Linked DNA regions of Homo sapiens. The protein of the gene in region 3 interacts with the protein of the main gene of each other region in a biochemical or structural test. Each region holds a gene or a part of one and is shown on either strand. Other genes may lie near its edges.

What was found.
Region 1: the proteins of GAS6 (region 3) and TYRO3 form a complex in vitro, tested with the Homo sapiens proteins (2 studies listed by BioGRID).
Region 2: the proteins of GAS6 (region 3) and AXL form a complex in vitro, tested with the Homo sapiens proteins (2 studies listed by BioGRID and IntAct, with this or other methods).
Region 4: the proteins of GAS6 (region 3) and MERTK form a complex in vitro, tested with the Homo sapiens proteins (one study listed by BioGRID).

Annotation. Positions count from the first base shown.
Region 1 is NC_000015.10:41,569,192-41,576,213, reverse strand, and holds part of TYRO3 (tyrosine-protein kinase receptor TYRO3 isoform 1 precursor), read right to left. Parts: intron 6,188-7,022; coding exon 6,058-6,187; intron 5,975-6,057; coding exon 5,874-5,974; intron 5,611-5,873; coding exon 5,515-5,610; intron 5,177-5,514; coding exon 5,096-5,176; intron 4,620-5,095; coding exon 4,527-4,619; intron 3,772-4,526; coding exon 3,650-3,771; intron 3,213-3,649; coding exon 3,103-3,212; intron 2,907-3,102; coding exon 2,747-2,906; intron 2,536-2,746; coding exon 2,399-2,535; intron 2,017-2,398; coding exon of another isoform or gene 1,983-2,016; exon of another isoform or gene 1-1,982. UniProt on the Homo sapiens protein: Receptor tyrosine kinase that transduces signals from the extracellular matrix into the cytoplasm by binding to several ligands including TULP1 or GAS6. Regulates many physiological processes including cell survival, migration and differentiation.
Region 2 is NC_000019.10:41,222,208-41,229,229, reverse strand, and holds part of AXL (tyrosine-protein kinase receptor UFO isoform 1 precursor), read right to left. Parts: intron 2,476-7,022; exon of another isoform or gene 2,318-2,475; intron 1-2,317. UniProt on the Homo sapiens protein: Receptor tyrosine kinase that transduces signals from the extracellular matrix into the cytoplasm by binding growth factor GAS6 and which is thus regulating many physiological processes including cell survival, cell proliferation, migration and differentiation.
Region 3 is NC_000013.11:113,861,076-113,868,965, reverse strand, and holds the start of GAS6 (growth arrest-specific protein 6 precursor), read left to right. Parts: upstream 1-4,889; 5' UTR 4,890-5,045; coding exon 5,046-5,133; intron 5,134-5,224; coding exon 5,225-5,391; intron 5,392-7,890. UniProt on the Homo sapiens protein: Ligand for tyrosine-protein kinase receptors AXL, TYRO3 and MER whose signaling is implicated in cell growth and survival, cell adhesion and cell migration.
Region 4 is NC_000002.12:111,901,593-111,908,614, forward strand, and holds part of MERTK (tyrosine-protein kinase Mer precursor), read left to right. Parts: intron 1-7,022. UniProt on the Homo sapiens protein: Receptor tyrosine kinase that transduces signals from the extracellular matrix into the cytoplasm by binding to several ligands including LGALS3, TUB, TULP1 or GAS6.

The DNA.
Region 1 (7,022 bases), on a different chromosome or scaffold from region 3:
TTCAAAAAAAAGAAAAAGTCCTCACTATTCATATATAACTTTTGAGTATCTGGAAAAAGCTTCCAGCTCTCCTGCCAACAGGAATTAATTTTTTTTTTTTTTTTTTTTTGAGATGGAGTTTTGCTCTTGTTGCCCAGGCTGGAGTGCAATGGTGTGATCTCGGGTCACCAGAACCTCTGCCTCCCGGGTTCAAGTGATTCTCCTGCCTCAGCTTCCCAAGTAGCTGGCATTACAGGCATGCGCCACCACGCCCAGCTAATTTTGTATTTTTAATAGAGGCGGGGTTTCTCTATGTTGGTCAGGCTGGTCTGGAACTCCCGACCTCAGGAGATCCGCCTCCCAAAGCGCTGGGATTACGGGCGTGAGCCACCGTCCCCTGCCAGGAATGCTTTTTTACATACAATTTCAGGAACCTTATAAATTCCCTGAAGCCTATCACTCAGGATGCCCAAGGAATGCCTCAGGCTCAGGTGGAAAAATAACAAACCAAAAACCTAATGGAAAGACGCTGAGACCAAGTCCAATGAATGCAAATGCCTGACTCTCTTGCCTATGCCCATGACAAGAGCCCCAAGCACTGCCTCACACACCAGCACACCCCCAGCAGGGGCCACCAGTAATGGCAGTAATCATGCCAGACACTGAACAGGTCGTGGGAATGGGAATGGTCTGGGGCCGTGGGTACATGGCCAGACTGGGACACGTCCTCAAGGCTGTGCTAGGAGCCAACTGGCGCCTGTCCACCAGGCTGCCTGGGTGAGGCCAGTGCCTGCCCACTCTCCATTGACAGCACCAGCTCCAGCTGGGGAGGAGGCTGCGCTGGGGTCTGGTCCCCACTGCCCTTCAGAGCTTCTACAGCGCCAGATTAGAACTGAAGCAGGCTGCAGCCACAGGGAGATGTGAGCTTCCTGCCCCTTGCCATGCCCTGAGCTCTGCTGAATGAACAGGAGGGCCAGGGCCTGGCTTGTCTACTCAAGATTTCCCTCTCAGGTGTAGGTGAGTTACCCACAGCCCAGGCTCAGGGCACTTCAAACCCACTGTCCAAGGGAAGGACCCCACCATCAGGCTGAGCCTTCCTGTGCCTGTCCATGACCTCGGCCCTCTGGAAGTCCAATCCCAGAGCAAGAAATGGAGCAGATTCTTTCTCTGGTCACAGTGGCTCCCACTCCCCCTGGGGCTCATGAAAGGTCCTCTGGGCTGGGCGTGGTGGCTCACACCTGTAATCCCAGCATTTTGGGAGGCCAAGGCAGATGGATCCCTTGAGCCCAGGAGCGCAAGACCAGCTTGACAAATATGGCGGAGCCCTGTCTCTACAAAAATACAAAAATTAGCCGAGTGTGGTGGCACGTGCCTGTAGTCCCAGCTACTTGGAAGGCTGGGGAGGGAGGATCACTTGAGCCCAGGAGGTTGAGGCTGCAGTAAGCAGAGATCACGCCACTGCACTCCAGCCTGGGTGACAAAGCGAGACCCTGTCTCAAAAAACAAAACAAAAAATACTCACAAAAGGTTGTCTGAAGGCCTAGGGAGCCCTTGGCTTGGATGGAGTGGGAGTGTAAGACTAGAACAGACAAATCACAGTTGTTGTCATAAAGAGTTAAGAGTATATATTCTAAAACTACAGGGATCTAGGTTCAAATTCCAACTTATTCACTTACTAGCTCTGTGACGTTGGCCATGTTACTTAATCTCTCTAATCCTATTTTCTCATCTACAAAGTGGGGATAAATAATAGTCTTTTCCTCATAAGGTCAGAGGAAGATTACCTGAAAGAATGCCTAAATGCCCAGCTAATGTCAGTGACACTTCCCATTATCTTGTCACAGGGTCTGTTATCACTGTAGCAAAGTGGGTGGTATCATTGCCTGCCCAGTCCCGAGGGCTTTGGGCTTGCAGAAAGAAGAGGAGGCAGTTCCCTTCTTCCCAGGATCTCAGTTCTTTATCTTAGATTCCCAAGAGAGCTCAGCCTAGGAAGTTTTCTTAGACTAGCTGGGGTCTCCAGGACAAAGGTTGTATTCACTAGGGTAGAACAAATAAAATAAAATAAATACAAATTAAAAAAAGAAAAGGAATGACGGGTGGGAAGATGGCAGGGAAACCTCCCACACTGTTACTCAGCACTGTGCCTTCTGCTCTTGGGGTTCCTGGTTCTCCTTACAAACTGGAGAAAAGAGACTGATAGACAAAGGCTAAAGCAAGAAATCTGGGATGGGAAAGGGGGAAAGAAAGAAAACAGGGAGGTGGTAGATGAACAGTGAGTATGAGGTGGAGTGCAGCCTTCCAACTACAAGGATGTTTCTATCAAAAAACAAAGGTCCAGTTGAGGCAACTGTGGTGGCAGCCATCAGCCAAAACTCCAGATTCCCCTTTCCTTCCAGAGCCCCCTTCCCAGGATACTCACACGTCCTCCATACACTCCGGAGGCTGTTTCAGGCGGTTCCCGCCAATGAGGTAGTTGTAAATCTCAGCGTTTTCGATGCCAGCATATGGCGTCTGCCCACGTGTCATGATCTCCCACATGGTCACCCCGAACGCCCACTGGGACAGAATCGAGGTTGGGGGAGAAGCTGTCACTAGGTGTCCTGAGCCAGGCAGAGAGCCATGGCTCTGAGACAAGCACAACCTGGGGCTCAGGGCCTCATCAGGGGGCAACCAAACCCCAGAGAGCAGACTTGGCTAGGCCCTTAAGGATCCTAAAGGTCTGCTCTCACACTCGTCCCCACCAAGCTTCACGGGCCACCCTGCTCACCACGTCACTCTGCACAGTATACAGGTTGTCGGCCAGGCTCTCCAGGGCCAGCCACTTGACAGGCAGTTTGGAGGCACAGCCTTGACGATAGTAGTCCCCACTGTAGATCTTCCGGGAGAGTCCGAAGTCAGCCACACACACTGTCATGTCCTCTGCCAGCCTACAAGGGGCATTGAGGGAGAGAGTCAGCCTTCTGCCATGCTCACAGGCCCACAAGAGCCAGGACATCTTTGCATCTTTGCTCCCAAGCTACCCCCATGCATAGCAGATACTGTCCCAGGCAGGAGCCGACCATCAGCTAGCTCCTCTTGGCACCTGCTGCTGTCTCCCACCCTCGAGTCCTCCAGAATTCGTACATGCAATTCCGAGCAGCCAGGTCTCGGTGGATGAAGTTCCGAGAGCTCAGGTACTCCATGCCGCAGGCAATGTCCACCATGAACCGGATCAGGGTCTGGAGGGGTAGGTTCTAGTGGACAGACAGGCCAAGCTCAGGCTTAACCTGCCCACCCAGCTGGGGCAGGATGGATGGGGGTCCCTGGCCAGAAAGCCTGAAGGCTGTCCCCAGAATCACTGGAAGGAAGGAAGGGGATGGAGGGCCTTCCCAAGGCAAGGAAGCTTCGGCTAGCCTAAGAGGGAGCCTGGAAGACGAGACTCCCCCACCCTGGGGCTCCACAAGTCCCTCCCTCTAGAAAGGGCCCTTGCCCAGCCTATATTTCTCAGCAGGGTTTTGTGAGAGAAAAGAAAGCCTGCTAGATTAAAAGGATTCAAACTCAGACCCCTCCTACTCCCACCCAGCTCCATCAGCCCTACCCAGCAAGCCCCTCTCTGCCAGGGTCTCTATGCCTTTCCAGGCCCTGTGTTCCCACCCGTTTCCTCCTGGCCACCCCCACACCAGGTACTCACAAAGGGGTTCTCCCCAATCCGGGAGGCGAGCAGGAAGGCATGCAGGTCCCCATGCTTCATGAAGGGCAAGATGACCATGGGGATGGGGAGACGGCCTTTAGCCCTGCTCCGGAGGCTTACCCCTGGGACAAGGGAGAGTCAGGAGCTGAGCATAGAAGGGTCAAGGGGCAGTTCAGGTGTCTGCATAAGTCCCCACCTGCTGGGTCCCATCTCTAGCTCTGGCTCTGCTATTTATTTTTTATTTTTTCACAGGCTCCACACTGGTCTGGGGACTACCCAGGAGGGACTCTGGCTGCTCCCATATCCCTGGAGCATCTTCTGTCCCCTTCCTTTCCTTCTCTGTCCACACAAGCAGTCTTTGTTTTTTCTGAAACAGTATCTTGCTCTGTCATCTAGGCTGGAGTGCAGTGGCGCAATCACAGCTCACTGCAGCCTCAATGTTCTGGGCTCAAATGATCCTCCCACCTCAGCCTCCCGGGTAGCTGGACAAAGGTGCACACCACCACACCTAGCTAATTTTTGTATACGTGTGTGTGTGTGTATGTTTTTTGTTTTGTTTTTTTTTTTTAAATAGAGGTGGGCTGTTGCTATACTGCCCAGGCTAGTCTCAAACCCCTGGCCTCAAGCAATTCTCCCACCTCAGCCTCCCAAAGTGCTGAGGTTATAGGCATGAGCCACCACATCCAGCCACACAGTCTTCATGTGCAGACCTTTGGCACTCCTCACCTCAGATTTCTGCCAGGACCCTCCTTGCTATTTTGCCATCTATTTATTTACCAGATGAGTCCAAAAGTCTCTCCTATAGGCTGCCATCTCATATTGGTAGAGCATATTTTTAGCCCTATTCTCTATCTGCCTCCCCCAAAAATGGGCTCACCAACAAGTTTGGCCACGTGTGGATGGTCAAACTCCTTCATGCAAGCTGCTTCCCTGAGGAACTCTTCAATGTCGCTTGAGGCAATGATGTCAGCTAGGAGAAGGGGATGGGGAAGGAGGAAATAAAACAAGATGTGCCCCTAGTTTTGACCCAGGCCTCCTAGGTCTTGTCCTTCAGATGTCCTAGGCTTCCCAGGGAGCCCAGGAAACAGCCCAGCCATGAGCAGGAGAAACCCCCAAGGAGTGGTGATACTTAGCAACTTCTCCACTTGCTAATGCCTTCCCTTCCCTTTGGTTTGGGCAGCCCAGCAGGTCAACCAACCACAGCTGTAATCACCCAAGAGGGGACTCAGAGGACAGTCACTGCCGATGGCAGAGAGCAATGGCTGGGCATGAATATGTATGTTTGGGTTTATGCTTGTGAATTATTCGTGTGGTAAAGAGCATCCCAGTTAGTGCTGCCCAGCTCTTCTTGGAAAATCTAGGGGCAAAGCAGAGCCTGCTTCAGGGTCAGTCGCCCCTCTTACCCTTCCAAGTGATGCCCTCAGGCTACAGCTATCCCCCACTCACCTTTCAGCATCTTCACAGCCACTTTCACAAAGGAGCCATCCTCTTGCTTCAGCTGGGCCTCCCGCACTGAACCAAACTCTCCTAGGAACCAATCCAAGTAAGGGAGAGTCTCCTTGGCTCTCTGCTCCCTGCCAACCTTCCTCCCAAGTGACCCTCCATGGGAACACAGTCAGCAGACTCTGGGGCCAGTGGAGAAGGCACCCTTGCCAGTAGCCAAAGCAAGAGCATGCTGGGAGCAGCTCCTCAGCCCTCCCTGTCTCCAGCCACCATTCCCCACAAACATCCCACACTCAGGAGTCTACAAGCATATCTTGTTTACGGCAACCGACCCAAACCCACAGCCTCAAAGTGACAGGGGCAACCAAACACTTCCAGCTACAGCAAACCAGCCATGCCCATCCCCACACAGCCTCACATACCTTTGCCCAACATCCGGCCCAGGGTGAACTGCTGCTCTGGGATGAGCACATCCTCCAGTTTTTCCTTTAGTTCATCGCTGATGCCCAAGCTGTCCACTGTGGGGAAAGGGTTTGTGGGAAAGAGGGATCTCTGATTCCTGAGCCAAAACCCAGCCTCTTATACCCCAGACTCTGCCCTCAGAGCATAGAGATGAGCTTAGGTCTCCCACGGCTGGGGTGGTGAACTCCACACAGGCAGATTTGTGTGCCTGGGGCTCACTGATGTTCAGACATATCAGTCAAATTAATAATTTGGTAAAAGAATGCAGATGGGGCACAAGACAGCCCATTTGTCCTTCCCACGATCACCCACCACTCACATGTGGCCTCGATGCGCTCGGGCCTTTCTCGATTGAAGGACCGGGCTGCCCGGAAGTGAACGGCTGGCTCTCCCCGGGCCATGACACTGTCAAAGGCTTGCCTAAAGGAAAACCCAGGATTTGGGGTCAGCTCCAAGGTCTTTCATCATTACCTGCCTCTCCCTCCACATCCCCATCCCCTTACCCAAACCGCGTCTCTTTCCGTCTCTTTCGAAGCAGGATGAGGGCCAGGGCAGCAGCCGTCACCAGGGCCGTTAGCACACCAAGGACCACAGGTACCCAGGATGTGCGGCTGTGAGGAGGGCCCTGCTGGCCTGTGGGAGGGAGGTGCAGTGGCATGAGCTAGGATGACACCATGAGGTCCCTTCAGAACTTTCCCAGGATGGCCATCCAGCTGGTTCAAGGGGCTCCTCTAGGTCAATAAGGGTCCTGAGGGAAAGGGGCTCCAGAGGAATGCCTAAGAGTCCTTCCTACCTGGTCAGAGACAGGCCCTGGCTGTTGTGACCTAGAGGGTGACCATGGATTTCTATGCCAGTTCTGGGGCAGAGAGAGGAGAATGAGATATAGTTTGTTTGAGACACAGTCTTGTTCTGTTGCCCAGGCCAGAGTGCAGGGGCACAGTTGCAGCTCACTGCAGCCTCAACCTCCTGGGCTCAAGCAATCCTTCCACTTCAGCCTCCCAAGTAGCTGGGACTACAGGTGTGCAACATCACACCTGACTAATTTTTAAATTTTTTTGGTAAAGTCTCACTTTGCTGCCCAAGGTGGTCTCAAACTCCTAGACTCAAGCAATCCTTCCACCTCAGCCTCCCAAAGTTGTGGGATTATAGGTGTGAACCACCACTCCTGGCCTTATTTGTTTGTTTCTTTAGAGACAACAGACTCACTCTGTTGCCCAGGCTGGAGTGCAGTGGTGCAATCATAGCTCACTGCAGCCTCAAACACCTGGGCTCAAGCAATCCTCCTGCCTCAGCCTCTGGAGCAGCTGGGCTTAACAGGCATATGTCACTACACCAGGCTAATTGTTTTTTTTTTTTTTTTTTAATTTTTTTGTAGAGACAGAGTCTTGCTATGTTGCCAGAGCTGGTCTCAAACTGCCGGCCTCAAGCGATCCCTCAACCTCCCAAAATGTTGGGATTACAGGCATGA
Region 2 (7,022 bases), on a different chromosome or scaffold from region 3:
TGCCCGTAATCCCAGCCTTAGGAGGCCGAGGTGGGTGGATCACCTGAGGTCCGAAGTTCGAGACCAGCCTGGCCAACATAGTGAAACCTCGTCTCTACTAAAAATACAAAAAATTAGCTGGGCATAGTGGCAGGCCCCTTTAATCCCAGCTACTCAGGAGGCTGAGGCAGGAGAATAGCTTGAACCCGGGAGGCAGAGGCTGCAGTGAGCTGAGATCACGCCATTGCACTCCAGCCTGGGCAACAAGAGTGAAACTCTGTCTCAAAAAAAAAAGAAAGAAAAGAAAAGACAAAGAAAGAAAGAAAAAATACAATAAAATTGGAGCTAATTGGAGCTTCCTCTCCAAATCTATCCCCTTCCCGCTTTACTTTTCCTCTTTGGTTCTTCTCATCACCCAACATACTTTACCTGTTACCCAAGTACCTTGCCCATTGTCAGTTTCTCCCACTAGAATGTCAGCTCTAGGAGGGCAGGGGTTGTGTCTGTTTCGTCCCCTGCTGTGTCAGGATGGCCTGGCACACAATAGGTGTGCCATAAATGCTTGTTGAATGAGTGAGTGAAATTGTGTTCAGCTATGTACTTATGAGCATTCCTGGGCATAGGTGTAGAAATATGAGCATGTGTAATTCCATAGGGGAGTTCACGTATTGTGTCTTGACTGTTTTTTTCTTTTGTTTTTTGAGAGTCTTGCTCTGTTGCCCAGGCTAAAGTGCAGTGGCATGATCTTGGCTCACTGCAACCTCTGCCTCCTGGGTTCAAGCCATTCTCCTGCCTCAGCCTTCTGAGTAGCTGGGATTACAGGAGCGCGCCACCATGCCCGGCTAATTTTTGTAATTTTTAGTAGAGATAGGGTTTCACCATGTTGGCCAGGCTGGTCTCGAACTCCTGACCTCAAGTGATCTGCCCATCTCAGCCTCCCAAAGTGCTGGGATCACAGGTGTGAGCCACCGTGCCCGGCCTTGAGTAACTGTTTTCGAGTGAAGGTGGATTGCCTTCCCTCCCTAACGTGGTGGTGTTGGTGTTGGTATGACCAGCGTGCACACACAGAAGCACGTACAATTACAGAGACAAACACGAGAGACACAGACCTGCAAGCACACAGAGATACCCAACACAAACCGCTATACAACGTACATCAGTCCCCCTTTATCCGAGGTTTCACTTTTTGAGGTTTCAGTTACACTTGGTCTAAAAATATTTCAATGGAAAATTCCAGATATAACTCCTAAGTTTTAAATTGCATGCCGTTCTGAGTACTGTGATGAAACCTCATGCCATCCCACTCTGGTTGGCCTAGAACGTGAATCCCCCCTTTGTCCAGCATCTCAGTGCTGTATCTGATACCTGTCTGTAAGTCACTTAGCTATCAGATCAACTGTCCTGGTACTGCAGTGCTCAAGTGCAGAGTTCAAGAAACTCTTATTTATCTAAATAATCGCCTGGCCGGGTGCTATGGCTCACATCTGTAATCCCAGCACTTTGGGAGGCCGAGGCGGGTGGATCACTTGAGATTAGGAGTTTAAGACAAGCCTGGGCAACACAGTGAAACCCCCGTCTCTACTAAAAATACAAAAAAATCAGCCGGGCATGGTGGCGCGTGCCTGTAATCCCAGCTACTCGGGAGGCTGAGGCACGATAACTGCTAGAACCCGGGCTGCGGAGGTTGCAGTGAGCCAAGGTCGCCACACTGCACTCCAGCCTGGGCGACAGAGAGAGACTCTGTCTAAAAAAAAAAAAAAAAGGCCCCAGGGTGCAAAATAGTGATGGCTGCAATTCGGATAGGCCAAAGAGAAGCCTTAAAGTGCTTCCTTTTAAGTGAAAAGGTGAAAATTCTCCACTTAGAAAAAGATAATCATATATATATGTACTGAGGTTGCTAAGATCTATAGTAAGAAAACAATCTATCTGCGAAATTGTGAAGGAAAAAGAAAGTTATGTGTAGTATATACAGGGTTTAGTATTATTCATTGTTTCAGGCTTTTGTGGGGGCTCTTAGAGAACGTATCCTGGTGAATAAGGGGAATCCCCCAACACAGATACACGTAGAAACATAGACACCCCCCTCCCCCAGCACACACACACAATGTCTGCGCTAGGATGTAAGAAGGACCAAGTTTTTCGTTTTGTTTTTTGAGACAGGTTCTTGCTCTATCTCCCAGGCTGCAGTACAGTGGCACAATCACGGCTCACTGCTGCCTTGACCTCCAGGGCTCAAGCGATCCTCCTGTCTCATCCTCCCAAGCAGCTGGGACTACAGGCGGCCACCACACTTGGCTAACTTTTCAATTTTTTTTTGTAGAGAAGAGGAGAGTCTCACCACGTTGCCCAGGCTGCTCTCAAACTTCTGGCCCCAAGCGATCCTCCCGCCTCGGCCTCCCAAAGTGCTGGATCGCAGGCAGAGCCACTCGGTGCCCGGCCCTGGGACCAAGTCTTGTAAGTGCGACTGCAGTTCTGCGTGTTGTTTACGCGTGTGCTTGTGCATCTGTGTTTGTGTTTCTGAGCTGGTATGTTTGTGACCCTGCGTGTATCTGTGGATGGTGTGTACGTGCATGTGTTGAGTATCTGTGTACGTGTCTCTCGTGTTTGCTCCGTGCGTGTACGCCTCTGTTCCCACCGCGTTGGCAAGGGAGGCTCTCCATCCGCAGACACAAAGTTTCCTTTTCTCCGTCAGCGGAGGGAGTGGAATGGTGCAAAGTCTGCAGAGGCCGGAAAGGGGAGGGTAGGGGAGCTCCTCAGTCGCGGCTTCCTAGGTGGCCGTTCCCAGACAAGGTCAGGTGCCCGCTCCCGCAGCCTCCGCGCCCTGAAGGCCCCGCGCCCGCAGCCCCCGCGCCGCCCGGAGGAGAAACAGTACAGTCCCGGGCGGGCGGCCCGAGTGGGGGCGGGGAGCCTGGGTCGGGTCCAGCCACCTGGCACGTGGGGCCCCGCCAGGGTCAGCGCGCGGGAGCTGGCGCCGCCGGCCGGAGAAGCCCTGGGGCTGGAGGTGGGTTCTGGAGCCGGGTCCCGTTCCGACCGCAGCATTCCTGCCCCCGCGTGAGTCACCGGGGGCACCTCCCCACCCCAGCGCTTCCGGCCGGCTTCGGGGGCGCGGAGCCAGAGCCGGGATCCCCCTTCCCAGGCCCCAACGGCCGCACCTTGAGTGAAGGGGACAGGAGGAACTGGGACCCCTTCCCCTCCAGAAGGTTCTTGCTTTACCGCAAGACGACAGGAGCAGGCCGATTCCAGATGTGCTTTCCAGATGTCCTGACCATCCCCCCACAACCCCTGCTCTCCGCCCCAGCTTTTCCAGAGAATGAGAGGGATGGAAGGAGGAGGGGCACGCCCTGAGTCAGATAGAGGGACAGACGCACACAAACGGACGAAATTCCTTCACACAGCAAACCCCCCCACACACACACTCACAATGAATCACACTTAAACACACAGGGGCTGTTATTAGCACAGAAGACGCAGCGCTTGGTAAGTTAACGGCACACAGATATGCAAGGGCTGATGTCACAAACACAGTGACACAAAAACACCGTGACTCACACATATACACGCGGGCTGACACTGATGTACATTCATAAAGAGACATGTATGCATACAAGCCAACGTGGGACAAACACATAAACACACAGTCACACATGTACACATTGATTACAAACACCTAGCGACGCAATGTACATCTAGGCTGATGCCAACACACACAGAAACTTAAATGTCCCTGTATATTCAGAGACACACACCACGTAACAGCGTACATGGAGTTGAGGTGGACAGATAGATACACACCAGGACACAATGAAGGGTCATTTTGACCTGCTCAGACACAGACACACCGACGCGTACACCTCACAGCCAAGCCTCCATCTACGCCATAAGATGGAGCTGGATGCGCCCAGGTTTCATGTTCACCCAGACACAGACTGATACAAAAACACATTTGCGCTGGGTGCGGTGGCTCACGCCTGTAATCCCAGTACTTTGGGAGGCCGAGGCCGGTGGATCACTTGAGGTCAGGAGTTTGAGACCAGCCTGGCCAACATGACAAACCTGTCATGAAACCCTGTCTTTACTAAAAATACAAAAATAAGCCAGGCGTGCCTGTAATCGCAGCTCCTCAGGAGGCTGAGGCAGGAGAATCCCTTGAACCCCGGAGGCGGAAGTTACAGTAAGCCAAGATCGTGCCACTGCACTCCAGCTTGGGTGACAGAGTGAGACTCCGTCTCAAAACAAAAACCCCAAAAAACAAAAAAACACAGTTTCGTAGATGCGCAGGCCTGATGCAGACACACAAGGATGGAGACACTGCCATGGACACATAGATTGACACAGAGACACATCTATACGCTGACTGGTAAGCATCCTTAGGTCATGTACTCAGAGGCAGCAGGGGCCAGTGCACACACAGGGAGACCAGAGAGAAGCAGAGGGTGCTGTTACACACACACACACACACACAGGTCTGTGACTACAGTCATACACCAACATGCTTACCCTGTGACATATACACACACGCCACAGAGACATCTATGGACACACACAGAAAGCTGGTAAGAGGCTGAGGGTTGAGAGCAGTGGCTCACGCCTGTAAATCCCAACACTTTGGGAGGCCGAGGCGGGAGGATCACTTGAGGCCAGGAGTTCAAGAGCAGCCTGGGCAACATGGCGAGACTCTGTCTCTACCAAAAAATTCAAAAACTATCTGGGTATGGTGGCACATGCCTATAGTCCCAGCTGCTTGAGGGGTGGGAGGGTGCTGAGGTAGGAGGATTGCTTGAGCCCAGGAGGTGGAGGCTACAGTGAGCCATGATCACAGTACTGCACTCCAGCCTGGGTTACACAGCGGGAGCTTATCTTGAAAAAAAATAAGGGGGAAAAAAGGTGGTAAGAAACACAAGTTATCCATGGACACGTTCTGATTCTGCAAGGGAACACAAGCTCTCACTAGGACACTCTCACACCCATAGCTGCACACCTGTGGGCTGACACTACCACCTCCATACAGAGAGGTGTGCACCATAGCCCCAAACCCACTACCCTCCAGGCACACTTTACTTTCATACAGTGAGTCCCAGCTGTGAACACACAAACACAAAAAAGAGGGACAGACACAGGCTGACACTGGTACACTCCATCATGCGCACACACACAGACACCCACACACGGGCAACCCCTAAGAAACGTAGAGAGAGAGACATGCTATAAAGATCCAAACACATATTGGGACAGAATCCAAGCTGAAGGAAATATATTTAGTCACACACACACACACACACACCACACATGGGACATCCACAGAAGTCCACCCTCGCCAAGGCACACCCTCACACAGAGGTTGTGCTGACGGATACACTAACACTCAGATCCAGAACACACAGATATCCAGACACCCCACCACCACCACACAGACATGCACAGATCCTCACACCTGTGCAGCCCCCATTTCTCTCCCTCCCCTCCCCTTCTCATGGGACCTGCCAGGCTGACTCATGCCCGATCCCCAACCCTGGTCCCTACTCAGCCACTCGAGCCATGGGCCTGAGTCACTCCTCTGGGGTCAGCATGCTCACCAGGTCTTCCTTGCAACTCAGGGTCCCAGGAATGCTGAGAATGTGAGCTCCTCCCTCCACCCTGGAGACCCCCAGTCAGAAGGCCCCTCCTCATTCCAGCAGAGAGAGGCAGCAGGTTGGGAGTGCGGGAAGCTGATGCCCTCCAGGCTGCAGCCTCCTTCCTTTACAGAGCCTCTGCCATCTGCTCCTCTGTCTTTCCTCCTTCAGTAGGGAGAACCCCCTGAATCCAGGGTCCCCCAGTGATGCCCCTGACCACTGCATAACCCTGAGCTCGGTCCTTCCTCGTCTGCATGGTGCAGAAGGGAATGGTCCCCAAGAAGGAGAGGGTTTCTGTCACTCCAACTTCCCTGTCCTGTCTTTCATTTTGTTTTGTTTTTCGTTTTGAGACAGAGTCTTGCTCTGTCACCCAGGCTGGAGTGCAGTGGTGTGATCTCGGCTCACTGCAACCTCCATCTCCCGGGTTCAAGCGATTCTCCTGCCTCAGCCTCCCAAGTAGCTGGGACTACAGATGCCCGTCACCACGCCTGGCTAATTTTTGTATTTTTGGTAAAGATGGAGTTTTGTCATGTTGGCCAGGCTGGTCTCGAACTCCCAGCCTCAAGTGATCCACCTGCCTCAGCCTCCCAAAGTGCTGGGATTACAGGCGTGAGCCACCATGCCCGGCCTCTCTGTCCTGTCTATGTTCATCTTGGGTCACTGTGGCCTGTCCCTTCCAGTGTATGTCATTCTATCTCTCTCTGTCTCCCACTTTCTTTTTTTTTTTTTTTCTTTTGAGATGGAGTCTCGCCCTGTCGCCCAGGCTGGAGTGCAGTGGCGCAATCTCGGCTCACTGCAAGCTCCGCCTCTCGGGTTCCTGCCATTCTCCTGCCTCAGCCTCCCGAGTAGCTGGGACTACAGGCGCCCGCCACCACGCCCGGCTAATTTTTTGTATTTTTAGTAGAGATGGGGTTTCACCGTGTTAGCCAGGATGGTCTTGATCTCCTGACCTCGTGATCCGCCCGCCTCAGCCTCCCAAAGTGCTGGGATTACAGGCGTGAGCCACCACGCCCAGCCTCTGTCTCCTACTTTCTTCCTGCTCTCTCTTCTTTGGGTTCCATCTCCCCAGTGGGGACCGGGCTGGACATCCTCCCTTTGACTGAGGCCAGCAGGCTTGTTAGGGCAGGAGGTGGGCCGGTTGTGGAGGGAGGCGGAGGAGAGGAGGGCACGGTTGATTCCGGTGCCCTGCTTGGGTCAAGGGCTGACAAAGGGGCACCAGGCCCACACGCACTCGAGCCATGGAACAGCTCAGAGGAAACCCAGGACAAAGAATTCTATTCAGAGAGAGGCCGGGGTGAATGGAGGGAGAGAGAAGCAGAGAGACAGAGAGAGAGACACATACAAAGAGAGACAGAAAGACACACACACCAAGAGACAGAAAGAGACAGAAAAAGGCATACGGAGAGAAATAAGATAGGTAGAGACAGAGAGGCA
Region 3 (7,890 bases):
TACTATAGTCAAGACAGTGTGGTATTAACTTTAAAAAGAGACAAACAAATAAATGGGACAGAACAGAGTCTACAAATAGATTTGCACATATATTATCAATTGGTTATTGACAAAGGTGCAAAGGCAAGTCAGTGGAGAAAGAATAGTCTTTTTAACAGTGCTGGGATGATTGCATTTCCCTAGGCACATACGTACAGATACACACTTTGTTTCATACTTCAGCATTTATAAAAACTCATTCAAAATGGATCACCATCTTAAATGTAAAACTGAAATCTACAGAACTTCTGTAATAAAATCTTTGTGACCTTGAGTTAGGCAAATGTGACACCAAAAGCAGAATCCATTAAAGAAAATAAGCTGCACTTCAAAATTAAGAATTCTGATCTTTGAAAGACACTTTAATTTCTTTTTATCTTGGAGACAGAGTCTTGCTCTATTGTGCAGACCAGGCTTAAACTCCTGGGCTCAAGAAATCCTCCTGCCTCAGCCTCTCAAGTAGCTGAAGCTACAGGCACCCACTACCATGCCTGGCTAAAGACACATTTAATAGAATGAAAAGACAAGCCGCAGACTGGAAATAAATATTTGCAAACCACACATCTGATAATGGACTTGCTTCTAGAATAGTTATAGAACTCTTAAAACTCAACAAACAGCTCAACAATTGGAAAACCAAACATCCCAAGTGTATTAGTCAATTTTCACGCTGCCGATAAAGACATACCTGAGACTGGGCAGTTTACAAAGGAAAGAGGTTTAACTGGACTCACAGTTCCACGTGGCTGGGGAAGCCTCACAATCATGGCAGAAGGTAAGGAGGAGCAAGTCACGTCTTACACAGATGGCAGAAAGCAAAGACAGAGAGCTTGTGCAGGGGAATTCCTCTTTTTAAAACCATCAGATCTTGTAAGACTTATTCACTATCATGACAACAGCATGGGAAAGACTTGCCCCCATGATTCAATTACCTCTCACCAGGTCCTTCCCATAACATGTGGGAAGTCAAGATGAGATTTCGGTGGGGACACAGCCAAACCATATCACCAAGTAAAGGAAAAGAAAGAAAGTAAAACTGAAACAGACATTTCACCAAAGAAGATATCTGGATGGCAATAAGTACAATAAAATTTGTTCAACATCACTAGTTATTTGAAAAATGCAAATTTAAACTACAATGAAATACCATTATATACATATTAGAGTGAGTAAAATTTTTTTTTTCAGTGGAGTGTAGGGTTTCTTTTTTTATTTTTATTTTTTTATTGATCATTCTTGGGTGTTTCTCGCAGAGGGGGATTTGGCAGGGTCACAGGACAATAGTGGAGGGAAGGTCAGCAGATAAACAAGTGAACAAAGGTCTCTGGTTTTCCTAGGCAGAGGACCCTGCGGCCTTCCGCAGTGTTTGTGTCCCTGGATACTTGAGATTAGGGAGTGGTGATGACTCTTAACAAGCATGCTGCCTTCAAGCATCTGTTTAACAAAGCACATCTTGCACCGCCCTTAATCCATTTAACCCTGAGTGGACACAGCACATGTTTCAGAGAGCACAGGGTTGGGGGTAAGGTCACAGATCAACAGGATCCCAAGGCAGAAGAATTTTTCTTAGTACAGAACAAAATGAAAAGTCTCCCATGTCTACCTCTTTCTACACAGACACGGCAACCATCCGATTTCTCAATCTTTTCCCCACCTTTCCCCCCTTTCTATTCCCCAAAACCGCCATTGTCATCATGGCCCGTTCTCAATGAGCTGTTGGGTACACCTCCCAGACGGGGTGGTGGTCGGGCAGAGGGCCTCCTCACTTCCCAGTAGGGGCGGCCGGGCAGAGGTGCCCCTCACCTCCCGGACGGGGCGGCTGGCCGGGCGGGGGGCTGACCCCCCCACCTCCCTCCCGGACGGGGCGGCTAAAAATTTTTAAAGTGACCACAGAAAGTATGGGTGGGGATGTGGAGCAACTGGGACCCTCATGCATTGATGGTGAAAATGAAAAACAGTATAACCACTTTGAAAAACAGTTTAAAAAGTTAAACAAATACCTACTATGGGATCCAGACACTCTGCTCCTAGATATTTCCCCAAGAGAAATGGAAGCACGTGTGCACACAATGTCCACACGATGGACACACACATGAATGCCTACAGCAGCTTTATTTGTGATAGTAAAAATTTAGAAGCAAGTATAATGTCCCTCAACAGGTGAATGATAAACAAATTGTGTTATATCCATACAGTGGAATACTACTGAGCAATAAAAAGGAATACACCTGCAACAAGATAGATGATTCTGAAAATAAATATGTTAAGTGAAAAAAACAGACAAAAAAGTGTACATACAGTATAATTCTTTTTATATAAAAGTCTAGAAAATACAAACAAATCTATAGTGATAGAAAGTTGGTCAGCGGTTTTTGCATAGAAACTGGGATGTGGGGTAGGGTGGGGACATTTAGGAGGGAGGAATTACCAAAGGGCATGAGAACACTTTTTTGGGTGATGGATATGTTCCCTAACTTGATTGTGATGATGGCTTCACAGGTGTACACAGCTTTCCACCTCATGGCCACAGACCGGTTAACCATCCATATAAAACATCCATTGCCCTGGGTCCAACCTCCTGCCCCCTGTGGAGGTGAACTGTCTACTTCACCATTGATATTTCAGGTTGTATGATATAGTGCCTGACAACTCTCCATTTTTGGAACACATCCAAATTGTTTCTTATTCATTTTCCATTTCTGCCTTCGAACGAATTTCCTGCACTGGTAACTAGGTGAAGAATTTTGGAGTTATCTGGGGTAATGGAGACATCCTCCATTGCACCGCATATTTGCTTTCTGTATTCCCCAGTTATAGAAATCAAAACGAGCAGTTGTATGTGAATGCATTGTATCAAACCAAGTCTCTAGATGATAGGAGGCATTGTCATTACTAGGATAGTAACTCAGTAGAAAGAGTGAATTGAGAATATGAGGAATGAGAGTGGGGTCCAGACTAAAAGGAGGCCAGGGGTCCTGAACTGCCCCATCCAACTGAGTTCATTCTGATACCTACTGATCTGAAGCAGCAGGTCCACGCCCAGGTGCAGATTGTCCCAGATGAACAGGCAGAGGCTAGAGATGCTCATTCCTAAAGGGATCAAATAATTCTGAGAATGGCAAGAACTCCATTAACTCTCTTCTCCAAAACTACAAAAATGTGCAGAAAATACGAACAATTTTTAGGAGCTTACACTCTTTGAAGTTTATCCATGGGCTGCTGGAACCCTTAGGAAATAATAGCTAGAAGTGCCTCAGACACTGCCTGGCACACAGCAGGTGCTCAATGAATTACACTGCCTGGCACATAGTAGGTGCTCAATGAATTGTCTGATGAAGTGATTAAGGAGCCTTGTAAATACTGATTAAAACATGTATCACCCCATCCAATTTTTCAAACCAGTGCTTCTCAAGAACAAGCAGGAAAATTAATGTAATATTGTTTTGAAGTAGCCGTGGTGGTTTCGGGGCAGAAGCCCAGGGGTACTCCTTACTCCGCCTGCTCCAGTAACTAGCTGACATGGAAGTGCCTCGTCATTCTGGTTCAGACACAGGTGCAGATAGATGACTTCTCTATCCCACTTTAATTCTCCTTGAAGATCATTCCCAGGGACATTCATTTGCTTAAATTAACATGCTCGGCCAGGCGCGGTGGCTCACACCTGTAATCCCAGCACTTTGGGAGGCCCAGGCGGGCGGATCACGAGGTCAGGAGATTGAGATCATCCTGGCTAACACGGTGAAACCCCGTCTCTACTAAAAATAAAAAAAATCAGCCGGGCGTGGTGGCGGGCGCCTGTGGTCCCAGCTACTCGGGAGGCTGAGGCAGGAGAATGGCGTGAACCCGGGAGGCGGAGCTTGCAGTGAGCAGAGATCACGCCACTGCACCCCAGCCTGGGCAACATAGCGAGACTCCGTCTGAAAACAAACAAACAACAACAACAAAAATTCATGCTCATAATCCCACTTTCAAACCAGTGACCTCAAAGATTTCTAGCAGCAATCCTATTCCATTCTTCCAATTACAGAAAGCAAAGAGAAACTGGATCTGGGGATCTAAGCGTTGAGCCTGCTGAGCAGAACGGCCATTCATTTGGGGTGAGGTGCTGACTCACTGCCCCTCTACATTGCATTTTGGGGTGTGGGGATTTCCAGAGCAGGATTCTCCAGAGAGGAGTATCCAAGCTCCCTCCTCCCGCAGCAGGGGGATGCTGGGCTAACTGCCTGGTTCGGTCCCCCGTGAGTGGTCTGCTGTGTTTTGGTTCTGTTTGTTTGTGTGTGTTTTGCCTATGACTTTGCGAAATATTCCAAGACAAGAGCCAGAAAGTCTTGGTCTCTGAAGACAAGCACAATGTTGCTTTCAGCTTAAATATCTACTGGGAAACCTCAAGATTTTTAATGTCATCATTATGAAAAACAGAGATTATAAAAGGAAACCGTCGCATTTCACTCGCTGGCCCCCAGTGGGATTGGATCTGACCTCAGTGTATCTTTTCTTTGGTAGGTTTTAAGTCTTGACAAAATGTGCCTAAGAATGAAGACTCCAAAAAGGATGCAGTAGATTCGGGGGGAGTGGGGGTTGGAAAGAGGCTTAAATCTTCACATGACACCTGGAATATGGTCAAAATGTACCTGCTCAAGTTGAACCAGGTATTGCGTCCTCCTTTTACCCCATCGCTAGTGAAGACAACCACCGCCTGGGGAGACGCTCCTTTTCCGAAACACTCGAGTCCCGCCGCGTCCCGGACGCTCCGCTTTCCCCGCGCCCGGATCCTCCCGGGAACCCGCGCCCCGCCCGCGCGCTGGTCCCGCCCCCGCCGCCTCCCCGCGCGCAGCCGCCCGAACACGCCCAGACCGAGCGCTTGAGGTGCCGCAGCCGCCGCCGCCGCCGCCGCCGCGATGTGACCTTCAGGGCCGCCAGGACGGGATGACCGGAGCCTCCGCCCCGCGGCGCCCGCGGCTCGCCTCGGCCTCCCGGGCGCTCTGACCGCGCGTCCCCGGCCCGCCATGGCCCCTTCGCTCTCGCCCGGGCCCGCCGCCCTGCGCCGCGCGCCGCAGCTGCTGCTGCTGCTGCTGGCCGCGGAGTGCGCGCTTGGTGAGTCCCGCGGGCCCGAGACCCCGTCCCCGGGCGGCGGGAGGAGGCTCCGGGCGCGGCTTGACGCGTCCCCCTCTCTCCCTCCGGGCAGCCGCGCTGTTGCCGGCGCGCGAGGCCACGCAGTTCCTGCGGCCCAGGCAGCGCCGCGCCTTTCAGGTCTTCGAGGAGGCCAAGCAGGGCCACCTGGAGAGGGAGTGCGTGGAGGAGCTGTGCAGCCGCGAGGAGGCGCGGGAGGTGTTCGAGAACGACCCCGAGACGGTGAGCAGCCGGCGGGCGGGATGCGGGGGAACCCCTGGCGCCCGCGCGCCTCCAACCGCTCCCGAGAGGCAGCGCTGCTGCCGCCCCCCAGCTCCGCGCGGCGAGGCCTGGCCTCAGGGTCCCAGGAGCCCCGGCCCGCCCCGCGTCCCCCACGCCCATCCCCCGGCGACCCCGGGATCCCCGCGCAGGCCGGTGAGACGCTGCGGGGCTGTCCGGGAAACGCTCGCTGTCAGACGCCTCCCCGCGGGGAAGCCGGGAGTCCGTTTCCAAAGTGCGAGAGAAACACAATGGTTAAAACCCAAACCGCTTCCCCGCGGCCCTCCCTCTGCTGGGCTGGAGGTGAGGAACCCCCGGGCCGCGCCTCGTCCTCCTGAGAGGGGTGGAGAGCAGTCCCCTCCCGAAAGAGGAATTGAAAGGGCCGAGGGCGGGAACTGCTTGCGGCAGCAGGTCCAAAAATAAGATTCCAGGAATCGAGCGGGGCCGCATGCGGGAGGGGAGGGCGGCTCCGCGGCCCCGTTCTGCCAGGTGCTCTCCTGGAGGCAGCGGGTGCTTTCAGGAGCCCGACGGTGCTGGCCCCGGCACCTCGGTTAGGAATGTCCTTGGAGAAGGCGGGGCGCCCGGGGCCGCCTCCCGCAGGAGCCGCCGTGTGAGGACGGCCTGGCCACTCTATCCTGCGGGCTCGGGAGCGGGTGACTTTGGAAAGTCCGAGAAGGTGTGGATTCCCGTTGACGTCCCTCCCGCCCTGAAGTCAGGGTGATTTCATAGCGAAGTTTTCCGTTCTGCTGGAATGTTCCTTTTAAAGAATTCTCCTGGGGTGGAATAAATGTCACCCGGGATGAAAGAGTGGTTCTGGATGAACCATGGAGGCCTGTTTCCGCTTACATTTCTAGTGGTTGACTTGACCCCTCTTAGATCTGCCTTTCTGAAAGCTCTGAGGCTGTCAGATGGCCACTGTGCACTTGTGGACATAGCTCATCCCTGCAGAGATGACGCACCTGGGGCTGTTGCCCGGGGGCTGCCCACAGCCCCACAGGCCCGTGCCCTCCTTCAGCTCAGCCTAGCTTGGTCGCTCTCCCCGGCCTCTCTGTTTTCCTGTTTCTTTAATGATGAATCCTGGCCTGTGCTGCTGGCTGAGGCAGGTGGGCCTGTGTGCCCTGGTCGCTCGGAGTCGCCGCCCAGCTGTGGGGTTGGTCGTGTGGCTGGTGCAGTGTCCTCCAACAGCGTCCTCACCCGGAACATTCTGCGTGCACAGGGACTGTGGCATGGGGCGTGCTGGTGATGGGAGTTGAGGGCAGCAGGGTCACCCCCACCCCACAGTACCCGCTCCGCGCAGCCCTGCAAGGCCTGGCCGCAGCCCCTCCTCGCTGTCCTCCAGGACCTGCAGGGCCCATGTCAATCAGACTGGACGCTGCCTGGATGTACTGTGCTGTTCTTCCCAAGTCAGTCCCCTACCTGGTTTTCCAATTTTAATTTAATAACTTTATTTACAAAGGTGTGAAATGAAGATAAGAAAATGAAAACAGCACTCAGGACCCCATCACTTTAATACAACTGCGGTTGCGTCACATGGTTTCTGTGCTGGCATGTTCATCTCCTCACCCTCCTGCATGTGGCTGAGTGGCTTTGGTGCCCGGGAGGCATCCCTCCCATCCTCTCACAGCCTGGCCCCAGCAGCCTCTGTCGGCTTCTTTTCAGCGTCATCTCAGTTCCCAGCGTTCTGCCCTCCTTCCCAGCCCCCATGCCAAATGATAACAACCCGCTTTCCCTCTGGTTTTTGGATCTGGCCATTAGCTTGCTGTCTGTTTCTGTTTCTGTTTCCGGTTCCTGCCGGCAGGTGGATGCTGGGGACAGCCTGGTTGGGGCAGGGGCAGGGGCAGGGTCCAGAGGCTGGCTTGAGTCCCAGCCGGCTCCAGCACACCAGGCCCACCCCTCCCAGGACCCTAGTCTCCACTGCATCCTCTGCCACACTCTTGGGAGACCCCAGGCCCGAGGGGACTGTCCAAGCACAACTTCCTGCTAATGCATGAAAATCATCCATGAACTTCTCCCTGTCAAAGGCCAGGGGCTCCTTGTCTTTGAAATGTTGCTCACTTTACATTTTGTGCAGTGCGGCTGATTGAGGAAAAGGGCTGTGGCCTGAGCTCAAGAGGTGACCAGGACCTGGCCATGGTGACTGTCAGAGCATCCTTGGGTCCCTGGCCTCCCCAGGCCCAGGATCCTGATGTGTGGTCCTCCACGGGTGGTTGTAGGGAAGGTGGTCCCAGCCCCCTGCCATTTTAGGATGTGGGAAGTGCCTGGCCGCCGTTAGTTAACACGCACCTACCCAGCCCTGGCTGTTTCCCCTGGGCAGGCTCCTACGAGGGAGGGAAGGGACAGCTGGAGCCAGCTCTCCAGTGTGCTCACCTTCATGTCCACCTGCTAAACTGCTAACCTGCCCGAAGTGTGTCCCACTGCCCCTTGCTGGGGCATCTTCCTGGTTGCGCCTTCTTCCCGGAAGCA
Region 4 (7,022 bases), on a different chromosome or scaffold from region 3:
CCACCCAGGCTAGAGTGCAGTGGCACCATCACGGCTCACTGCAACCTCAACCTTCCGGGCTCAAGTGATCCTCCCACCTCAGCCTCCCAAGTAGCTATGACCACAGGCACATACCACCATGCCTGGCTAATTTTTTATTTTTTGTAGAGACAGGATCTCACTATGTTGCCCAGGCTGGTCTTGAACTCCTGGGCTCAAGCGATCTTCCCACCTTAGCCTCTCAGAGTGTGGGGATTATAGGCATGAGCCACCATGCACAGCTGAATACAATTTTTAAAAAATTAACAATAATTATGTTTTTTTGTTTTTGAGATAGAGTTTCACTCTTGCTGTCCAGGCTAGAGTGCAATGGCACAATCTCGGCTCACCGCAACTTCCCGCCTCCCGGGTTCAAGCAGTTCTCCTGCCTCAGCCTCCTGAGTAGCTGGGATTACAGGCATGCACCACCACGCCTGGCTAATTTTGTATTTTTGGTAGAGACAGGGTTTCTCCGTGTTGGTTAGGTTGGTCTCGAACTCCCAACCTCAGGTGATCTGCCTGCCTTGGCCTCCCAAAGTGCTGGGATTACAGGCATGAGCCACCACACCCAGCCAATAATTATATTTTTAAATCTTAATTTTTGAAATAATTTCCAGATAATTGTAGAAGGGCCAGTGAGTTACTAGTCAGCATTGGTCAAGAAGAGGTTCAATCTTTTTATGCCTGTGAATTGGGAACATGCTGCTGGGTAGAAAAACTGAGCTGGGACCTTGAACACACATGTGAAACAGTCGCTTTCCATATAATAGCCAGAATGAGATTTTGGAAACGAATCTGATTGTATTTTCCATTTGAAAATCTTCCAGTGGCTTCCTGTTCCCTACTAGAATTTGCAGAGACTCACAGCGAACCTCTTTGACCCATTTCCATTCACTTCCCTCTTGTTCCTACCACTCCAGCCACCTGTGTCTTCTTTCTAGGGCCTGAGCAGCCTTTGCAGTGACTCTTCCCTCTGGCTGGAACCTTTTTCCCAAGATCTCGGCATGCTGGCTTCTTCTCATCCTTTGGGTTTCAGTTCAGAGGTTCTCCTTGAGAAGCCTTCCCCAATAACCACCCCCTGCCAAAGTATCATATGCATACACCCCACTATCCCTTAAATTTAATTTCCTGATAATGCTTCTCACAACCTGATCAGTTCCTTCCTTCCTTCCTTCCTTCCTCCCTCCCTCCCTCCCTCTATTTCTTTATTGACAGAGTCTTGCAATGGCAAATTCTCTGCTCACTGCAACCTCCGCCTCCCAGGTTCAAGCAATTCTCCTGCCTCAGCCTTCCCAGTAGCTGGGATTACAGGCACCTGCCACCACAGCTGGCTAATTTTTGTATTTTTAGTAGAGACAGGGTTTCACCATGTTGGCCAGGCTGGTCTCGAACTCCTGACCTCAGGTGATCCGCCTACCTCAGCCTCCCAAAGTGCAGAGATTACAGGCGTGAGCTATGGCACCCAGCCTTACCTCTTTGTTTACTCCTTTTCCTCCACTGTCCCCCCACCACAAGGTAAGCTCCTGGTGGCAGGGCTGCTGTCTTTTTCACTGCTAACACAGCATGGAGCTCATACGGGTGCTCAGTGAGTATCAGAGCACAGCATGAAGGAACCAAGCCCCTGCATGTCTTACCAGGTGCTCTTCACCCTTATCTTTTCCTACTGGCTTTTCCAGAAACAGAATTGCTGGAGCTCCCATGCCCTCACATTCGGGGCTTGGTTAATAGAAAACAATCTTTTATTTTGCTGTGATGCCAATGTGATTTCATTGCTGGAGGAGCTAGTCAATTAAAACCAGACAGATTTTTGGGCTGTATTAACCCCAAACATATTTTACATTGTCCTAACTATTCCAACTAGAAAAAAAAATGTCAGAAGGTAATTTTTCATGTTAAACACAGTTCTAACAACTCCTTGCTCAGGGGCAGGTAGCCCTGGGTGCCTTGACTTTGGCCCTTGCCGTTAGTTTAATCTTAACCCAAAGCACATGGCTCTGAATTGGTATGTTTCTCAGCAGGAGATTAATTATTATAAAAACTGAAAGGGGTCTCACACTGTGTGAGGCACACTATGCCTCTGGGGACTGGAATGAAAGTGTTAACCGGGACTGGCTTCTGGGGCTTTGGGGGTGGTGATTAACTTTCAGGACCTCTGTTCCTTTTTGGGTACAGTGGGAGGCTCTTTTCATAGAATTGTTAGGAGGACGTAATGAGCTAATGGCAGGTGATATGTGCTTAAAATATATTTGCCATTATTACCAATGGTTCTCCTCCATTCTTCTGAACTCAAGTATGGGGGAAATGTTTTTCCTAGACAAAAGGTGTTGGGAGGAGGGTTCTTTTCTTATTGAAGTGTATCCTGAATGGTCCACCCTCCATTGTTCAGAATGCTTTGGTGAAGGGGCCCTCCGGTGTCGCCCTAGAGTGCCCAAGTCCTTTGCTGCAGCTCTTTAGGTTTTTGTTTCCTAGTAGTTTGAGCAAAACCCACCCAGGACCAAGCAGTTCTCCAGAGAAGCAGGGCCCGCCCTGACTGCCATTCCCCTCCTACTCCTGCCCCCATACCTTCCCTTATGGAGTTCAAACTTGACATAGTACAGGAATAGCTTCTTGTCATGTGCCTCTCAGGAAGGTATAAAAATGAAGTCCAGTTCCTGTTCAACTTTTCCCACATAACTCTTTTCCAAACTGGGTGTGGTTTAAATTTTTTTATTTTTATTTTTTGTGTTTGTTTTGTTTTAGGGTTTTTGAGTGTGAACATCCAGAAAATTCTTTTTTTTTTTTTTGAGATGGAATCTTGCTCTGTCGCCCAGGCTGGAGTGCATGTGGCGCGATCTCGGCTCACTGCAACCTCCGCCTCCTGGCTTCAAGCAATTCTCTGCCTCAGCCTCCCAAGTAGCTGGGATTACAGGTGCCCTCCACCAGACCTGGCTAATTTTTGTATTTTAAGTAGAGACGGGGTTTCACCGTGTTGGGCAGGCTGGTCTTGAACTCCTGACCTCGCGATCCACCCACCTCGGCCTCTCAAAGTGCTGGGATTACAGGAGTGAACCACCTCACCCAGCTCAGAAAATTCTTTTCCTTTTTACCACATCGAGCTAGGTTTTCCCAATGAGGTCAGTTGGCTGCAACATAGAGAAAATGAGGCTTTGGTTCTTAGAGTAGATTCCGTGTACAGGCGTGAGTATGTGTCCGCAGGTGGTCTTGTAGGAAATGCAAAGGGCGCCAGGTGCACTCCTGGCTTCTGGTACTTCCTGCTTAATGGCATGGGTGAGCCAACCCTCAGGTGCCCGGGAGGGAGCCCTGATTACTCTCCCTCTGGCACTCTGGGCATTGGCTAACCCGTGACCGGAGTTAAACCAGTTCCCTCTCTTTTCATTCTATGTCTCCCACTCCTGCCTCCAGCCGAAGTGCTAAAAATGCAGCCTGGCAGGGGCAGAGAATTCCATTAGGATCAGCAGGCCCCTTTTGGAGAACAAGGATACTAAGAATACCTGCCATCCTGGCACTTCCTCCCTCCTAGGCCTTACTTTTCTCTGTCTGAACCATGGCTGTTGAACTGGGTGATTCTTAGCCACAGGAAGGGAGGGCCTAGATCTTCCCTAGTTTTGTGAGACTCTGCAGCTGGACAGCCATCCCTTCATGGGAGCTGCCACATTTTCACTCTCGGGGCCTCTGACAGGCACTAGGATCTAGGGACATGGCCGGCATGTGAAACCCTGGGCTGCTATGGCCAGGTCACCTCCTCAGGTCCTGGTGTTTCAGAGTGATAAAGAAGAAAGGGTGATTATGTCTCAAACATTTCATTGAGAAACCTACACTGTTCTTTTTTTTTTTTTTTTTTTTTTTGACATGGAGGCTCACTCTGTCACCCAGGCTGGAGTGCAGTGGCGCGATCTCAGCTTACTGCAGCCTCCTGGGTTCAAGCGATTGAACCCAGGGTTCAACCTCCTGGGTTCAAGCGGTTCTCCTGTCTCAGCCTCCCGAGTAGCTGGGATTACAGGCACCCATTACCACACCCAGCTAATTTTTGTATTTTTTAGTAGAGACAACGTTTCACAATGTTGGCCTGGCTGGTCTCGAACTCCTGGCCTCAGGTGATTGGCCCACCTCAGCCTCCCAAAGTGCTGGGATTATAGGCGTGAGCCACCGTGCCCAGCCAGAAACCTACACTCAATTCTAAAGCATTTTATTTCATCCTTCTTGGCTAGTTCTTCAATTATCAGTGCTTCTTTCACTCAATGGTAAATGGATTTTCCATGAGTCTTGGAGGTGGCAGGCAGGGAGAAGGGGCAGAAGGAAAGAGAAAGAGAGAACAGATGTTGGCTTTATGTTTGGAATAAAATTACACCAAAAGCTAAGAACATTTATATTTGTGCTTAGAGAAACCCCATTTCATTTCAGAAGCTCAATGCCTGGATTTTTTTGCCAGCACATTTTACACTTGTATGTTTCTCCTTGTACTCTGTGCCTCCATGTATTTCTGTTGGTCCCTTGAAAACAAGATCCAATCATCACAGGGTTAGTGCTCTGCCCTAGGTCACTCCAGTAGGGGTCCATCCTCCGGATTTAGATCTCAGGTTGGCACTTATGCAAATGCTTTCTGACAGGTCCCCTTTTTTGTGTAATCTGCTTTTTCTTTGAGGATCTAGATACCTCAGCATTCAGGGACAGTAAACATCTTAGAACTTGCCTTAGCTGTGGTCTTGCCTCTCATTAGATACACAAAGAAAAGCCTTGTTTATTTTGGAGAAGGAATTGTTTTGTTATTTTAAGCCTTAGGGCCTTGTGGTTAGAGCTACCAATAGTAGATTGGCTTCATTATGGTTTTGAAAATGATCACTTTCACAAGTAAGAACAGGCTGTCTTAGTGGAGAATATTAGAACAGAGACTCAAACTTAACTGAAAGTTGTTTTCTGTCACTGTGCCGCTTAGGGAATTCTCAGTGCGGTGATAAATATTCATGGACTTCCCAAGTGTTGTGTGTGCCTGGAGGCCAGTTTTTCACTTGTTCCAATTAACGGCAGGCTGCCTCCACACAGGAAGTGAAACCAGCCTTTAAGCCTTTTTACAATTCTGGCACATGATTTGAAGATTTGGTGATGAAAGCAATGTTCTTTGAAAGTTTTGGAGCAAATAAAAAAAAGAAGCTTTTTAGATTCACTCTTAGTTTAAAAAATAACCACTTGGGGAGTTGAAAGATGTAAGTTCTCATCCTAGCTTTGAGAGGAACCTGCAGGGACAGCTGGGGTATAGTGTGTCCTCCTTCTAAAACTCCACATCCTCACTTGTCAAATGGGAAAGCAGATGGATGATTCTAGGCCCCTTTGGGGCAGAACACTGATTCCATCTAAAGGGGAGAGGTGGGAAGGGATACTTTCTCCCATGCCGTTTGGGACACAGAGCCTCAGCCTGAGTTTGACCCTCAGCCCTGTGCGTGACTCTCGGTGTGAACTTTCTTAGACATCAGCCCAGAAACGGAGATGGAGGCTGTGTGAAGAGTTTCATTAAAAATGAGTGATGCAGCCAGGTGCGGTGGCTCACGCCTGTAATCCCAGCACTTTGGGAGGTCAGGGTGGGTGGATCACCTGAGGTCAGGAGTTTGAGACCAGCCTGACCAACATGGTAAAACCCTGTCTCTACTAAATACAAAAAATTAGCCAGGCGTGGTGGCGCATGCCTGTAATCCCAGCAACTTGGGAGGCTGAGGCAGAAGAATCACTTGAACCCAGGAGGCGGAGGTTGCAGTGAGCCGAGATTGTGCCACTGCACTCCAGCCTGGGCAATAACAGTAAAACTCCGTATCAAAAAAAAGAGTGATGCTAGTGGGTTCTTTGCTGTTGACAGTTGCCATTCCCTGCCACCTGGGCTGTCTGTTCCTCCAGTAAGTACCCCCTCCAACTCTGGGGCAATAGAATAGTCTGGAAACATGGAGGTATATTTCTGAGAATATTGGATCTCCCCAAACACATATGACCTCTTCCTGCTAAATCTTCTGAGAGACAGAGGGATGGACTAAGCTTTTTCCGGGGTGGATGGAGTGGGGCATATCCCCCCTGAGGGGGAACAGCAGAATCTTCAGGATCAGGGAGAATGATGTCATTTTCAAAAGTTTATTCATTCAATATTATTATGTCATTTTATAATTGGAAATTTAAAAAATATTTTGTGATATAAACTGTAGAATGCAACGCTCTTAAATATTCTGGCTGGGAAGATAAGGATAAAGACAATGATTCATGACAGGGGTTCTCAAGAAGAGGTATGCTTCAGAACTACCTAGGAAGCATTTTCGCAAGGTAGAAGCTCAGGTTCCCAGGACCCGTGGACTCAATCTTTGGGGCTGTGGCCCTGCCTTGTGTATGTCCAAGCTATTCTGTGCCACCTCTTTCGTTACACTCCACTGATGCAGTATATCTGATGTCTGATTCTTGGGCAGTGGTGGGGAGCCTCTCTCTATTACCCCATCCCAGGAGGGGTATGTATCAGAACCTGGCCATTGAGGGTAGGAGTAAGCTAATTATGCTTATCCAAGGGAGGTGGCAATTCCTAGACAAAGTGAGAATGTTGAGCTGGATGATTCATTAAGCCAAGTGCCCTTAGGATTTTAGGACCTGTTGGTGGAAAGAGATACAGCTAATCAGGTGGGCCAACCAGTAAATAGTAAGGCCTTTCCCTTTTTACCATTATATTTTTTCCTCTCAGCTACTCTTTATACTCACATCTTATTATAAAATATTTAGGATACACAAAAGGATTTAACAGGTAATAAAACTCGCCTGTGTACTCACTACTTGACGTAAGAAGTCAGACATTAACACTACAGTGGAAGTCCCCGGTCGTTCCTCTCTCCAGTGTCATCCCCTCACTCCCACCCAGAGAAAACCATTATCCCACATTGGGTGTTTCAATTCCCATGCATGTCTTTATCCTTTGATCATGATTGACATGATTATGTTGGTAACACTCTATAGTGTTGTTTTGCACCATGTCAGTTACATTTGAT